Linked DNA regions of Homo sapiens: region 1 is reported to be linked to region 2. The links are microRNA targets in miRTarBase. Many come from high-throughput screens and were not tested one by one. Region 2 holds a microRNA gene; the other region holds the end of a gene's coding sequence.

Region 1 (7,122 bases), not on the chromosome of region 2:
GAAAGGTCTGCCCTGGATTTTCTGTAATCCTCAGACTGAAGGCTGGCCCTGTTTTATGAATCTCACGGGGAGGCAAATTCCCCTTGTGTGCAAATTCTATGAGGGATCGCATCTGTTCTGTATTCTTGGGTTTTACAGCAAGAAGAGACAAGAGGAAAAGAGATTCCTTCCAGGAAGGCTGCTATAGAGCATTCTGAAGAGCCCCAGATACTGCATTCAAAATTTAGTGGTGCAGATTTAGGTTCCCAGAGAGACAGGGAAGTGGAAGAGGCCAACTCAATGCGCAGGTACATGTCTGTGCTACCAGGCCCCATGTTCTCTGAATCAATTTCTGTTATAAAGTCCCCAGGTACATTGAAAGACAGGGCTGGAACGGATGATTGCCACTTTATGAGGTTATTTTATTACAAATCTTTTCTAACTATGCCCCAGATGAAACTGCAGAGCCCAAAATAGGCAGCAAGATCATACTGCATTCACATTTTGAGGGCAGGCAAGATCTTCACTGAACAATTGTGGCTTGGGGGAAGAAAGCCTGAAAGAAAATTTGATGGGTATCTGCCAAAGTCCCTTCTAGTATGAAACCTGATCGGTACCTTTTATGTTTATATTTGATCTTGTAATTCTGAACAGTGCTTGGGAAATATAATTAAAACAACATTGCCTCCCAACCTAGAATGCCTCCCCACAAAGGTAGAAGAGAGATAAAATTGTTTTATAACTCAAACCAGAATGTGATGTGCATCAGAAGCAAAACATGTAGTGTTTAAACATCACAGTCTGGTTTGAGTTATAAAACATATGTGTTGTCAAGATTAATATTAGTAGCCCTCAAGTAGGAAAATTTGACAGCACCATTTGGCACAGTTTATCCTAAATTCACCTGGTAACTAGAAAGATGATCTAGGTTTGATAACTGGCTTTATTAAAAGGAAAAATAGGCCGGGCGCGGTGGCTGACGCCTGTAATCCCAGCACTTTGGGAGGCTGAGACGGGCAGATCACGAGGTCAGGAGATTGAGACCATCCTGGCTAACACGGTGAAACCCCGTCTCTACTAAAAATACAAAAAATTAGCTGGGCGTGGTGGCAGGTGCCTGTAGTCCCAGCCACTCGGGAGGCTGAGGCAGGAGAATGGCGTGAACCCCGGAGGCGGTGCTTGCAGTGAGCCGAGACTGTGCCACTGCTCTCCAGTCTGGGCGACAGGGCGAGACTCCGTCTCAAAAAAAAAACCGGGGGGGAAAATAAACTTCCAACTTTTGTGACAGAAAATTGTTTTGCAACTTGGAATTAAGTGCCTGATAAAATTAGGCTTCTATCTTACTGCAAAATTGTGAGATCGGGTACTATCTTTTTTCGTATTTATATTTCAAATACATTGTTCCCAGGTCCTGGAGAAAAGTATTCGTGTGTGTGTGTGTGTGTGTGTGTGTGTGTGTGTGTGTGTGTGTGTTTTAACAAAGAGAAGCAAAACAGCCAGCTAAATGTCGGAAAGTTGCACATTTTGGAGACTGATTTAGTTGGCTAGATGGGCTTTTTAACGTAGTGTGTTTTTTAGATTACTGGCTTCAGGGTGGAGCCACTTAATAAATAAAGCAAAGGAAGCATGCAGTTTTTAGGGCTTAATATTTAAATATGTGCAAAGCAGGAGCAGCTGGAAGGCATAACACTTAGATTCTCCCAAATCAAGAATCCCATTTTTACATTGAATTCTGAGCCCCCAAAAGAAATGCCATGCCAGAGGACTGGGCAGTTCAATGATTCCATAGTGCACCTCAGTAGAGGGACATTCATTTGAGGTTGGTAGGCAATCCTATGCCAGCACACACTATGATTACTGCATCCCACATGGGTGTCTTACCCCTCGGTGGGGTGGCTTGGGGGCTGTTTCTGTAGCCTCTACATTCTAAACCATACTTTTTCTATCCAAACACCCAAAGAAATAAGCAACTCCCTAGAGTAATAAACATTTACTGTAAGCGACTGCTGTCAGCCCTCTAACACCATAGCTCTTGCCAGTGACTCACCAGCAATTACATCCACCTAGTCAAGTTCTCTCATAGTACAATGTAATCTCTGGTATCCCCCAAAGCCAAGGAGATCAAGTAATGCAATACAAGAAAGAGCAGAGTGTTAGACCTGAGAGGGATCTCTCTGCTTACAACTCTGAGGGCCTCATGAGAAAAAGCAGTTTCCTCCCAAGAGGAGGAGACTGTGACAACTTTTCTGTTTTCTGTGATTCTAGGCTAGAATTCTGTTAGAATTCTTTTTTTGGGGGGCGTTCCCCTCATGTGGCATTTGGAGTGGCAAGAGGAAGGACAGACAGAAGTAAATGGAGAAACAGAATTCATTTGACTTTTACAGAGAGAGGAGATCTTAAAACCATGCATATGTGTATGTACGTAGAGTAAATATCAGTTTTTATTAAGTCAACTTTGGACTATAGAGCTCTTTAAAAATCCTTTTCCTAACTGTAATTCCTACTCAAGTCATTATACTTTTGCTGCTAGCTGGACCTCTGTAGCCAAATGAGCAGCCATTACACCTTAGTCGCTGTTCAACACCCTTCCTCACTGCAGTGTGATAGACCACTCTCAGATAACAATCATGCTAATTCTGCCAGAAGTATCCTAACTAGAGGCCCTATCTTGAATAAAGGCCAGGTAAAGCCAAACCTATGGCCGGGCACAGTGGCTCGCACCTGTAATCCCAACACTTTGGGAGGCTGAAGTGGGCAGATCAGCTGAGGTCAGAGATTCAAAAACAGCCTGGCCAACATGGTGAAACCCTGTCTCTACTAAAAATATATAAATTAGCCGGGTGTGGTGGCGGGCACCTGTAATCCCGGCTACTCGGGAGGCTGAGGCAGGAGAATGGCTTACGCCCAAGAGGCGGTGATTGCAGTGAGCCGAGATTGCACCACTGCAGTCCAGCCTGGGCAACTCAGCGAGACTCTGTCTCAAGAAAAAAAAAAAAAAAATGCCAAACCTGCTGGATTACTTTCCGAGGGGGCTGGGCACTCTTGGTCACAAGATGTTTATGGTTGAAACACTGAGTTAATGATGTTAATCAACTAAATAAGAACTCAAAACTTAAGAAAATGTCCCAGTACTTTAAGAAAAAGCATTATTAGTTTAAGTATGTTTTGCTTTAAAAATAGTACTCATAAATTCTTGCTGAAATCAATAGTAACATAGAAAAGTAACAATACTAATAGCCTGTCATAAGCTGATTAGAATCCTCTGTAATAAAGTATACCATTCTTAATAACCTATATAACCATTTGAAATGGGTGCATTTCTCCTCTTGCTTTCTGAGGAAGGCCTACTCTAACAGAGGAGCTTTCAATAAACTATCTCTTCTCATTGCAAGGCATTCCTCTTCCTGCTTTCTGAGGATGCCCTACTCTGTAACTGAGTAGTCTCTAATAAACTTTACTACACTCTGCAACTCACCAAGAATTCTTTCCTGTGTGAGATTCAAGAACCCACTCTTGGGGTCTGGGACAAGATCATCACATCTCTTCTAGTGACTCTGCCAGGACTTGAATGAGGTGAAGTCCCAACTCAAAGGAATGAGGTCCCAACCCAAAGGAAACAGACTCTGCAGCACCAATGGGCTGACGCAAACTCTAGTTGTAAATTTTTGACAAATAAACCCTTACGACCTTCACCTAGTTTAGAAACAGAACATTTTCATCATCTTCAGAAAATTCACTCGTGTTTTGTCCCAGGCACCTATCTTTTCTTCCTCAGCCAGAGGCTATCAATGTGTTTATTTCACCATAGGTTTATTTTGCCTGAAATAATACAATACATAAATATACAAAACACAATTTTATGTCTACCTTTTTTCACTTACGAGGTCTATGAGATTCATATAGGGTGTGAGCTTTAGGCTGAGTTGTATTCTGTTATATGAATGCTATGCAATTAATTCAAACCACTGCTTTAACCCAACATCTTTTGGTGAACTACTTACAAACTGGCTCTCAAATGAATGTAAAACATTTGCTGCTAAGTTGTGGCCTTTCAATCTTACCTGCCTTATCTAATCATTATTAAGATAGTCACTATGAGAAAACTATTCTCCAAATTATTGAAAGTTTAAGTCCTCCAGCAAAAGGAATATTAGGGAAGACATTTCACTGTTAACCCATAGTATATTATTTCCATCTGTTAACCACAATCTTAGATAAGATGGAATAGTTTAACACTGGTGTCAGTACAACATTTCATTCATTGTACATCAGTGTTAAAACATGAAAAACCAACTCATTTTATTAAAAGAAATTAAGTTCACCCATAGTCTACAGCATTTTAAAATCCACTATATTCTTCCTGGTCAAAATACAGTTACAAGTACTCAAGAAGCATTCTTTTTTTCCAATATACTAATCTTGCAGTTCTGTTTTCTACGTTTTTTTAAAGTGAGGCTAATTATTTAGTGAATGTTGATAGGAATTATCTTCACATTTCCCTGATACAGGTGAAGATGTTATTCTCATCACATCAAATACTCAACTTTTTCACTATGTATTCTATCACATCAAATAATACTAAAGACTCCTACTTTATTCTGTTTTAAAGATATGTTAGTACTTCAACTCAGTGGTCCTAACCTTTTTGGCACCAGGGATTGGTTTCATGGAAGACAATTTTTCTACAAACTGGCAAGGAGAGAGATGGTTTTGGGATGAAAATGTTCTGCCTCAGGTCATCAGGCATTAGTTGGAGTCTCCTAAGGAGCACACAACCTAGATCCCTCACATGCATAGTTCACAATAGGGTTTATGAAAATCTAATGCCACCACTCATCTGAGAGGAGGCAGAGCTCAGGTGGTAATGCTTGCTCACCCACCACTCATGTCCTACTGGTGCAGCTCAGTTTCTAACAGGCCACAGACCAGTAACTGGTCTACAGCCTGGGAATGGGGACCTCTGCTTTAAATGAAGTCTTTTTAAAAAAAAAAAAAAAAAAAAACTTATGGAGGAATTGAAGTAATTTCAAAAATTCAGAATATCCCTCTTACTTTAATATAGAAAAGAGCTCTAAACACGTATATGTTTACATGCATTACTACTTTATTCAAACACAAAGAGCATATTTTTAAAAATTTTCATGTGTTTTACATTTGGCATTAAACTTCCATGAAAAATGCTGATATTAATGATATTAACGTAGAATGACCTCACATTGTTCTGATGCAGAAAAAAAAACAGAACACATATTTTCACATGAACACCACGGATTAAGGAAAAGCAGCAACAGATTTGAAAGCTGAATTATATAAATAATATTTGCTTTCCAAAAACCTCAAATACTGTAAATACAAATGAAGTATCTATGAAATATACCTGTCAAAACATCAATGTTCTTGCTACTTTAAAACATATAAGCAAATAAATTATCTAATTATTTTGCCTTTAGATTATTCTGTACAAAAAATACTCTTATTTAGTATAAAGGCTGAAAGTGTCTGTGCTTTAGTCCTTTCTCACATAAATTCTCTGACACATTTAGACTTCATTTTTTATTAAATACTTCCTCACATTTATTGCATCTGCAAACTTCCTTTTTCTATGAACCCCTAGGTGACTCATAAGTTTGATATTTTGAATAAAACTTTTCACATTTTTACATCTATAGTGTTTCTCTAGTATGGATTATCTTGAGTAAGGGTTGAGCACAGTTTAAAATAATTTGCCACATTTTTAATATTTGTATGGATTTTTTCAGTTTATATTCTCTGCTATTGTGTAAGGCTTGAAAATAGTTAAAGGTTATGCCACATTCTTAACATTTGTAGGGTTTCACTCCCATATAAATTATCTGATGCACAATAAGACATGGGTAACAAGTAAAAAATCTGCTCCATGTTTTACATTTTTAAAGTTTTTCTCTAGTATGACTTCTCTGATGTGCAATGAGGTATGACCTAGAGTTAAAGGCTTTGCCACATTCTTCACATTTGTAGGGTCTCTCTCCACTATGACTTCTCCGATGTGTAGTGAGGTATGACCTATAGCTGAAGGCTTTACCACATTCATCACATTTGTAGGGTCTCTCTCCAGTATGTCTTCTCCGATGTGTAGTGAGGTATGACCTAGAGTTGAAGGCTTTGCCACATTCTTCACATTTGTAGGGTCTCTCTCCAGTATGACTTCTCTGATGTGTAGTGAGGTATGACCTATAGTTGAAGGCTTTGCCACATTCTTCACATTTGTAGGGTCTCTGGCCAGTATGAATTCTCCGATGCTGAATAACATCTGAACTATAACTAAAGGCTTTGCCACATTCTTTACATGTATAGGGTTTCTCTCCAGTATGAGTTCGCCGATGCACAGTAAGACCTGAGGAGTCACTAAAAGATTTGCTACATGCTTTACATTTGTATGGTTTTTCTCCAGTATGAATTCGATGATGTCGAATAAGGTGTGAACTATAAGGAAAGGCTTTGCCACATTCTTTACATTTATAGGGTTTCTCTCCAGTATGAATTCTCTCATGCACAATAAGATTTGAGAAACAAGTAAAAGGTTTAGCACATACTTTGCATTTGTAAAGATTTTCTCCAGTATGAATTTTCCGATGTTGAGTAAGGCAAGAACTACGGCTAAAGACTTTGCCACATTCTTTACATTTATAAGGCTTCTCTCCAGTATGAACTCTCTGATGCATAATAAGATTTGAAGAACGAGCATAAGATTTGCTACATACTTTACATTTGTAAAGTTTTTCTCCTGTATGAGTTGTCTGATGTTGAGTAAGGCATGAACTACGGTTAAAAGCTTTTCCACATTCTTTACATTTATAAGGTTTCTCTCCAGTATGAATTCGCTTATGTTTAGTAAGGTATGAACTACAGCGAAAGGCTTTGCCACATTCTTTACATTTGTATGGTTTCTCTCCAGTGTGAATTCTCTGATGCACAATAAGATTGGAGGAACGAGTAAAAGATTTGCTACATGCTTTACATTTGTAAAGGTTTTCTCCAGTATCAATTTGCTGCTGTTTAGTAAGGTATAAACTACAGTTAAGGTTAAAGACCTTGCCACATTCTTTCCATTTACAGGGTTTCTCTTCGGTAGGAATGATCTGATGTTGAGTAAGGTGCAAACTA
Region 2 (7,122 bases):
GTAAATAGGTAAATGTTTTCCACAGCCCAACAATCATTTCAGTGTTTACAAATTAAAAGGCCCACGGTTAAGACATTAAACAGTAAAATATGTAATAAATGCTCCAACCTACCCTCTCCCCCGAAAGCTGCTTCTAAGTTTAAAACCATGAATTTGACTAACCATGCCATTGAAAACCATCCAGGTTACTACAGGCTGAATTAGTTTTCAATGTCTAAGTCCTAGAAATATCACTCCCTATCCCAGCCCTAGCAAATTCTAACTTTACATTTGACATAAGGCATTAACATCAATTAAAGCCTCAGTTTAATAATCAGAATTTAAATGAAGTCTCCTGAAGACCTCTCTTCTGGCAAAAAAAAACACGTATCAGACTCTGGGAAAACATTCAGACCCACTTCTAGCTATTACTGAAATAAATGATTAGAAAGTTACGTTGGTGAGCCGAAGTTAAACCTAAAGCTATCCCCTGGATCTTTCTAGCAATAAACCCATGTTGAACCTACCATGAAAACTTTCATTCACTGTGCTTTTGGTTACGTTGCCTCCTGATTAGTCATTAATTTTAATGAGGTTTTTTCCTTGTGTTGAGTATGAATAGACCTTACAGTTTGAGGATCTCTAGAATTCCCTGAATTATTGGAAAGACATTCATGACTCCCAGTGTGACTAGTTAAGAGCCCCAGGGAGCCTGTGAAGACTAGAATCTACAAGTAACCTGCACTAAGAACGAAATTCAGTAAAGGAGACTCAAGCTTAGCTCCTGGCCATCTTAAAGGGCTAATGTATGTCTTTCACAGGTTTGTTCAACATTTCAGTAATTCACAGTATAGCCAAGAGCATGAGTATAAGTCTCTTGAAAAAGCCAGTTATTTGGAGCTTTTTAAATTATAAACTTTGAAAAAGTCACCCACGTTCTCACACTATATAGATGACTTTGTATCTATTTTACTATTTTCTCATTTAACCATACTAGCAAATAAGGAAAAAGGCTATTAAATGACTCCCCTGATGCTGGAAGCTGACAAAGCTTTTATGCAATTTAGCCTGTAACTAAAAATTCACCTGTATCAATTCATTCTGACTCCTGCAATATGAATAGCTCATTATAAAGAAGGGCCTTCTGATTCCCCCTGCCTCCCAAATTAAATAAAAAGGAACAGTCATTTGTTTTCATGGAAAAAAAAAACCAAACAAAAACAAAAAAAAAACCAGACCATCTTAAGCAAAGTTTTACATGACATTATATAAAATAAAGTACAATTTCCACTTAATTCAGTCTTCAAATATTTTTTATTGGAAGGCCATGCATTGCCTTCATTTATTGTATTTCAAATCACTGTACATTTACTTTTGTGAAAACACTGCCTGCATTTTCTAGTACAAAAAAAACCTAAAAATTGTTTCAGGAATGTAGAGAAATATCCAACTTAAATAGCGAAAAAGTGCACCATAATTACTGCTGCACTGCAGTCATTTCTGCAATTCCCATGTTTCTTAAATAACTATCTTGTCAGATAACACACAATATAAAGAGCAATTATGAAAAACAGACATTTACATATACTTCTAAAGTCTTATTGGGAATATCCTGTTGGCATTGGATAACCAATCATAGGTGCAGCTGCAGTAGCAGGATATGCATATGCCTGTTGGTTCATACCATTGTGCATATTTGGAACATTACTTCCGTATTGCTGAGTGCTATCATAACCATTCTGGTAAGTCCCTGTTGGATTACCAGTCCTAAAACTGGTCTGTATACCAGCAGACACAAAATTACTTCCAAAGCTCCCATTGGTGTAATTTGCAGCACTGTAAACACCATTCTGAGTTTTTGCCCCAAAATCTCTTTTAAGCAGGCTAGAGTAACCTCTGTCATAATTTTCCCTGTCTCTAAAGGTATTAAATCCACCCCTTTTGCCCGCAGAGTATCTGTCCCGACGGTCATCCTTCATGCCTCCTCTACCCCTGGAACGACCTGTCAAGAAAACAATTGCAAATTGATCAATTATGTCTATGACACAAATCATTGTGGACAGAAAGAAACAGATCTATTCATGGTAGGCGTGAAATGTTTTTACAATTTTTCAGCTTAAGTTTTCACATTCAAGGTTTTACTCACCCTCCAATACCATTTAAATGGATTTGTAGACAACGATGTGACTCGTAACTACCAACATTTCCTATCAGTCATCCTTACCTGAACCTCTGTCTTCGACCAACTGAAGCAACTTGGGATTAATTGCTTGATTAGCTTCACGAAGCACAGAGATAAGGTCGCTCACTTGCTTTATGTTATTAGGTGTAAAGAAAGTGTATGCTGTGCCTGTTTTGGTACTGCGAGCAGTTCTTCCAATTCGATGAATATAATCCTCTGAGGAGTTAGGGTAGTCATAATTGATGACAAATTTCACATCTTCCACATCTGTAAGGTGTTGCAGTGTGGCAAAATAGCAATGTACGGAGTTTTGCACACCACAACAGCCAGACCAAAAATAAAAAGTTAGACAATTGTATTCCCAAGAAGGTACGGGCTGCAAAAAATACAGTTAAAATGGTTATCCATTTCCTGTAGGAATACCATTGAGGTTGAAAAAAGAAAAAAAAGCACATGTCATCTGTATAATTCATCACCCACCCAGTGACAGACCCTGTCAAAAGGAATGTGTGTTCCCTAAGCACATTCCCAAATCAGCAAGTTCCCTTACAGATCATCAAGTGACATCTGAATGCTTCTGCGCAGTAGGGCCACTTAAAGTTTCACAGCAACCTCTTCATGTGCTCATTTTGAGGACCTTGAAACAAAAAAATGTACAAGGTCCTTTGCATTACACATTCATCAGAAGTTCAAAATTCTGGCCACACTGCTTGTCTTGCCAAGACCTTACAACCGCAGCTGCAAGAAAACATACCTGTCCCCCAAAAGTTGTTTTTATGCACTGTGTCTCGTCTAGGCAAGCGCTTCCAAGAAGCCAGGATTCACTTGAGAATGTGTCTCTCTCTGGCAGGTCTCGACATGACGACTACTGTGTAGGTGAGGGAGGAACTTTCAAAGCACTTTCTTTTCCCACTTACTATGTGTGAGAAGTTGCTCCTGCTCTAGATCTCATGTGCCAGTACTCACCAATTTGTAAAAGGCTTAGTACCTTTTAAAGCTGCTCTCTCCATTTCAAACTTGAACAAAAATTTCATTGAACATTGAAGTTTGGAACTACTTCTTCGACATTTCAGCAAACTCACTGAAACTCAAAGACCCACAGATCACAGTGAACAGTTTGAAACAAGGCTGTACCATGGCAGTCATGCAAAGCATGGGACAGAAGAAATACCACGGCAGTGAACTGTGAGGATAACTTCCATTTTTTCCCTCGGAGAGAACAGTTTACGGGGCAGAGGTGATATGTTCTGCCTTTTGAAGATTACTGGCACACGTTCAGCTTTTTCACCTCTCTAATCGACTGGAAGCAGCCAGCCGATCACTAGTCCTCCATCCCCCTCGAGTCCTCCGATTGTCATGCCTAGGCCTTGCCACAAAGACAGCACCTTTATGTGAAAAAAAACTTAGAAAAAATGCAGGTTAAAGAAAGCAATAAACTTTCTTTAAAAAAGTTAAATGGAGATCTTCTGGGAAACCAAGCCATGAATGCGAGTTTGTACTAACCTAGCCCTCTGGAGGCCACATCTGTAGCAATCAGAATAGGAGCTTTTCCATGTTTGAATTCTACAAAGGAAGGCATATACATGATCAATTATCTGAGCAGAATTCTAGCTAGGTTAAGTAAGGGGGAAAAATACTTCATTTGAAATATTTACCATTTAGAACCCAGTCACGCTCTTGTTGACTCTTGTCACCATGGATACCCATGGCAGGCCACCTAAGTTAAAAGACAAGTTGTGTTATTAAACTCACATTGAAAACCTCAGACTCCAGTGCTTGACCACTTTTGGTCACAGATCTCTTTAATTTCGCCAGAAATGAAAAAGTTAAATTCACTATCAGATATGAAAAAAATCCACTGCTCGTGATCCAAGTTTGCCCTTTCCTAAGCTGTTTTAATCAATCTGCTTCAATGGAGGAGCTCACACATACCCATCTCTCCTCATTTTTCTGGTAAGCTCATCACATCTTCTTTTGGTTTCCACAAAAACAATGGTTTTATTCTCCTTCTCACTCATGATCTCTTCCATTAGACGAATAAGTCTAATAATAGGAGAGAGAAAGGAAAAATCCTGAGTTTTAAAAGACCATTGCTAGGGCCACACATTTATGGTCAGCAAAACATTAAGTTCAATTTACATGGCTGGAAGTCAAAGAGGAAACGCCTGCTAATCCACTTATCGAGCAGTTCGACCCTTGGTCCTTAAGTCAACCAGGGGACACATGAATTCCTTCTATAGGAAAGCTATAAATGGTGACAGCCATTATTTGAAGGATTCAAGAAATTTTCAGGATTAGTAGGCTAACTAAATGAAATCACACCAACTGAAATAACCTAAAACAACTCACCAAACAATGATCCCTCAATTTTACAGCAAAGTTGTTAGGAAGCAAATATAACAGAGTTAATAAAACTTACTTTTCATCCTTTTCTACGTCATGACACACATCCACAATCTGAAGAATGTTGTGGTTTGCACTCAGTTCAAGTGCACCAATGTTTATATGAATATAGTCTTTCAGGAAATCTTCAGCAAGCTGTCTTACTTCTTTTGGCCAAGTCGCACTCCACATTAGAGTTTGCCTATCAGGCTAATGGATTTTGGGGGGAAAAATTAGTATCAGACTCTTAAGAGTGAAAACACAATTCAGTTTGATCACATATTTCAAAGGACACTTACTCTTATTTGATCCACAATCTTCCTTATTTGGGGTTCAAAGCCCATATCAAGCATTCTATCTGCTTCATCAAGGACAAGGTAGGTTGTTCTTCTCAGATTGGTTTTTCCACACTCTAAAAAGTCAATCAGTCTTCCAGGTGTTGCAATACAGATTTCCACACCTTTAATTAAATACGTAAGTGTAACTACAATACCTAGGATATTTAGCACCAATGACAAATAAAACCCTTTTCATTACATACCTCTCTCCAAATCACGTATTTGTGGTCCCTTAGGAGCACCACCGTAGATACAAGTAGACTTCAAGCGACATGCTCTACAATATTCAGCAGCTACTTGCTGCACCTGTTGGGCCAGTTCCCGAGTTGGTGCCAGCACCAAACACTAAGGAAAGAGAAACAGCTTTCAGCACAAACCTGGATACTAGTTTTAAACTGCTAACTTATTATACTAGCAGATCCTTTCTTCATGTGTTGTCCAATACCCAAAACAGCTCCAGCTGAATAGGGTGAGCTAACCTCTATATAAAACCACCACAAATGATTACATCTTTAGCTATGTAGTCTAAAATCTACACATTATGCTTCTAATAAAAAGTTAAAAATATATACTTACAATAGGCCCATCGCCTCTCTCTAGGAATGGCTGATGATTGATGTGGACAATGGCAGGAAGCAAATACTATTTAGGGTGAAAGTGGGGACAAACAGAAATCACATTAAAATACTCGTTTTTAAATTACCATTACATTTTCTTGCATATATCAGATCAACTCAAGAGTTCTCCCAAACTTACAGACAATGTTTTCCCAGATCCAGTCTGTGCCACTCCAACCATATCCAATCCACTTAGAGCAACTGGCCATCCCTGAGCTTGAATAGCAGTGGGTTCAGTGAAATTCTGTCTTGCAATAACATCCATGACATTTGCTATAATTAGTAACAGATATTTAGTAAAAATTAGTGATGCCAAGAAAAAGAGGGGGTAGGTGGAAACAAAAACACGGGTAGGTAGAACTGAAAAGTAGCACTTACCAGGGAAATTGGCTTCATAAAAATTTAGAACTGGCTTCGGGCAGTTGTGACCTCTAACTGTAATTTCCTTGCTTCTTCTGTATGTTTCCACCTCTTGCTGCAAAACAAATTATAACAGTCTTAAAATTCATGACAACCACCCCTAGCTAAATACGTAATTGATAAGCCCCTAACTTCATAATTTAGTAACTAGTTTAAAGTAGCCTTCATTTTAATCTGGACCCACCTATGAACACCCTATTATGAAAAAAAAAATTTATTGTTATACTCAACCTAATTTAAGTAAAAATCCCAAAGCCACCTATATCCAAAAGTGAGTCACACCTTTCCCAATTATGAAGTCAGAACATGTAACTCTACCAAAATTGAGTTATTTGCAAAACACCTGTCAGAATTTCATTTACTAGAATCCACGATCGAGTTACAGCCTGATGAAGCCACATGAATTTACTCACTGCTGTGCGCCTAGCCAAATCAGGGTGCTCTTGATAAAAATTCTTCTCAAATTTAGGCAGCTCATCAAGATTCCACTTCTTTTTAACTAATTTCTCCCCAGGGTTTCCAAACTTCTTTCCAGATAAGGGCCCTGCCCTACTTCCTCCAAATCGAGGTGCACCAAACCTGGAATGAAAAAAAACGTTATTCACATTTTCAAATGGCTATACCCAGGTTTCTGTATAGATTTGTCATCCATTGGCACAAGCTAAAAACCACTGAAAACAGACTTCGAGAGGTAAACCTAGCACTGTCCTTCGTGAAAATCTCTCTCTCTCTCAACAGCCACAGTTAACATTTCCCGTAGTCCCAAGTACACATTACTTAGGTCATGTAAACAGCCTGGGATTTATCATGTCGGAAGCCGGGGATTTATCATGTCGGAAACTTGTCACCCACATGCCAGAATTTGGGATTCTGGCACACACCACTTCTTGTGGTTACTGTAATCTTCCCCACCAGCCTAGCAATTCACTATCAGCAATAACAAGGCTACATGAACCGAAGAGCATCACGACGATGTTACTCATATGGCCGTTTTGGAACCAAACAGCTTTAGTGGTAAGAACCTAAACAGTACAGTCAGCGATAACAGAACAAGGGTTTTCTCAGAAACACTTCTGCTAGCAAACCCAGCTGGGGGAACGCCGCGGTAGAGCTCCGGATCAACGAATCAAAATTATATAACGCAGGAAAAAAGAAAAGGAGGAGCCGGCGACTACCGGGGGAGGAGTCCCGGCCCGGGCGGAGT

What was found. The annotated mature microRNA hsa-miR-3064-3p reads UUGCCACACUGCAACACCUUACA and lies in region 2 at 2,430-2,452, opposite strand. An mRNA with a match to its seed (bases 2 to 7 or 8) in the 3' UTR can be bound and repressed. Matches are read on the target gene's strand: a 7mer-m8 pairs with bases 2 to 8, a 7mer-A1 pairs with bases 2 to 7 and ends in A, and an 8mer does both.
Region 1: miRTarBase lists ZNF267 as a target of hsa-miR-3064-3p. Seed matches in the 3' UTR shown: 7mer-m8 at 5,786-5,792 and 8mer at 5,703-5,710.

Annotation. Positions count from the first base shown.
Region 1 is chr16:31,915,248-31,922,369 of GRCh38, reverse strand. It overlaps ZNF267 (zinc finger protein 267), which reads right to left. Exons shown (of 4, transcript NM_003414.6): 4 at 5,013-7,122. The coding sequence ends at 5,889. Among named protein-coding and RNA genes, the nearest start is that of ZNF267, 45 kb to the right of the region's middle.
Region 2 is chr17:64,498,346-64,505,467 of GRCh38, forward strand. It overlaps MIR3064 (microRNA 3064), which reads right to left and starts at 2,494; the gene lies at 2,429-2,494. It overlaps DDX5 (DEAD-box helicase 5), which reads right to left. Exons shown (of 13, transcript NM_004396.5): 2 at 6,332-6,497; 3 at 5,877-5,973; 4 at 5,638-5,771; 5 at 5,458-5,523; 6 at 5,085-5,226; 7 at 4,843-5,003; 8 at 4,581-4,753; 9 at 4,094-4,204; 10 at 3,817-3,878; 11 at 3,665-3,724; 12 at 2,204-2,428; 13 at 1-1,981. The coding sequence ends at 1,578. It overlaps MIR5047 (microRNA 5047), which reads right to left and starts at 2,968; the gene lies at 2,869-2,968. RefSeq lists a silencer at 7,035-7,104.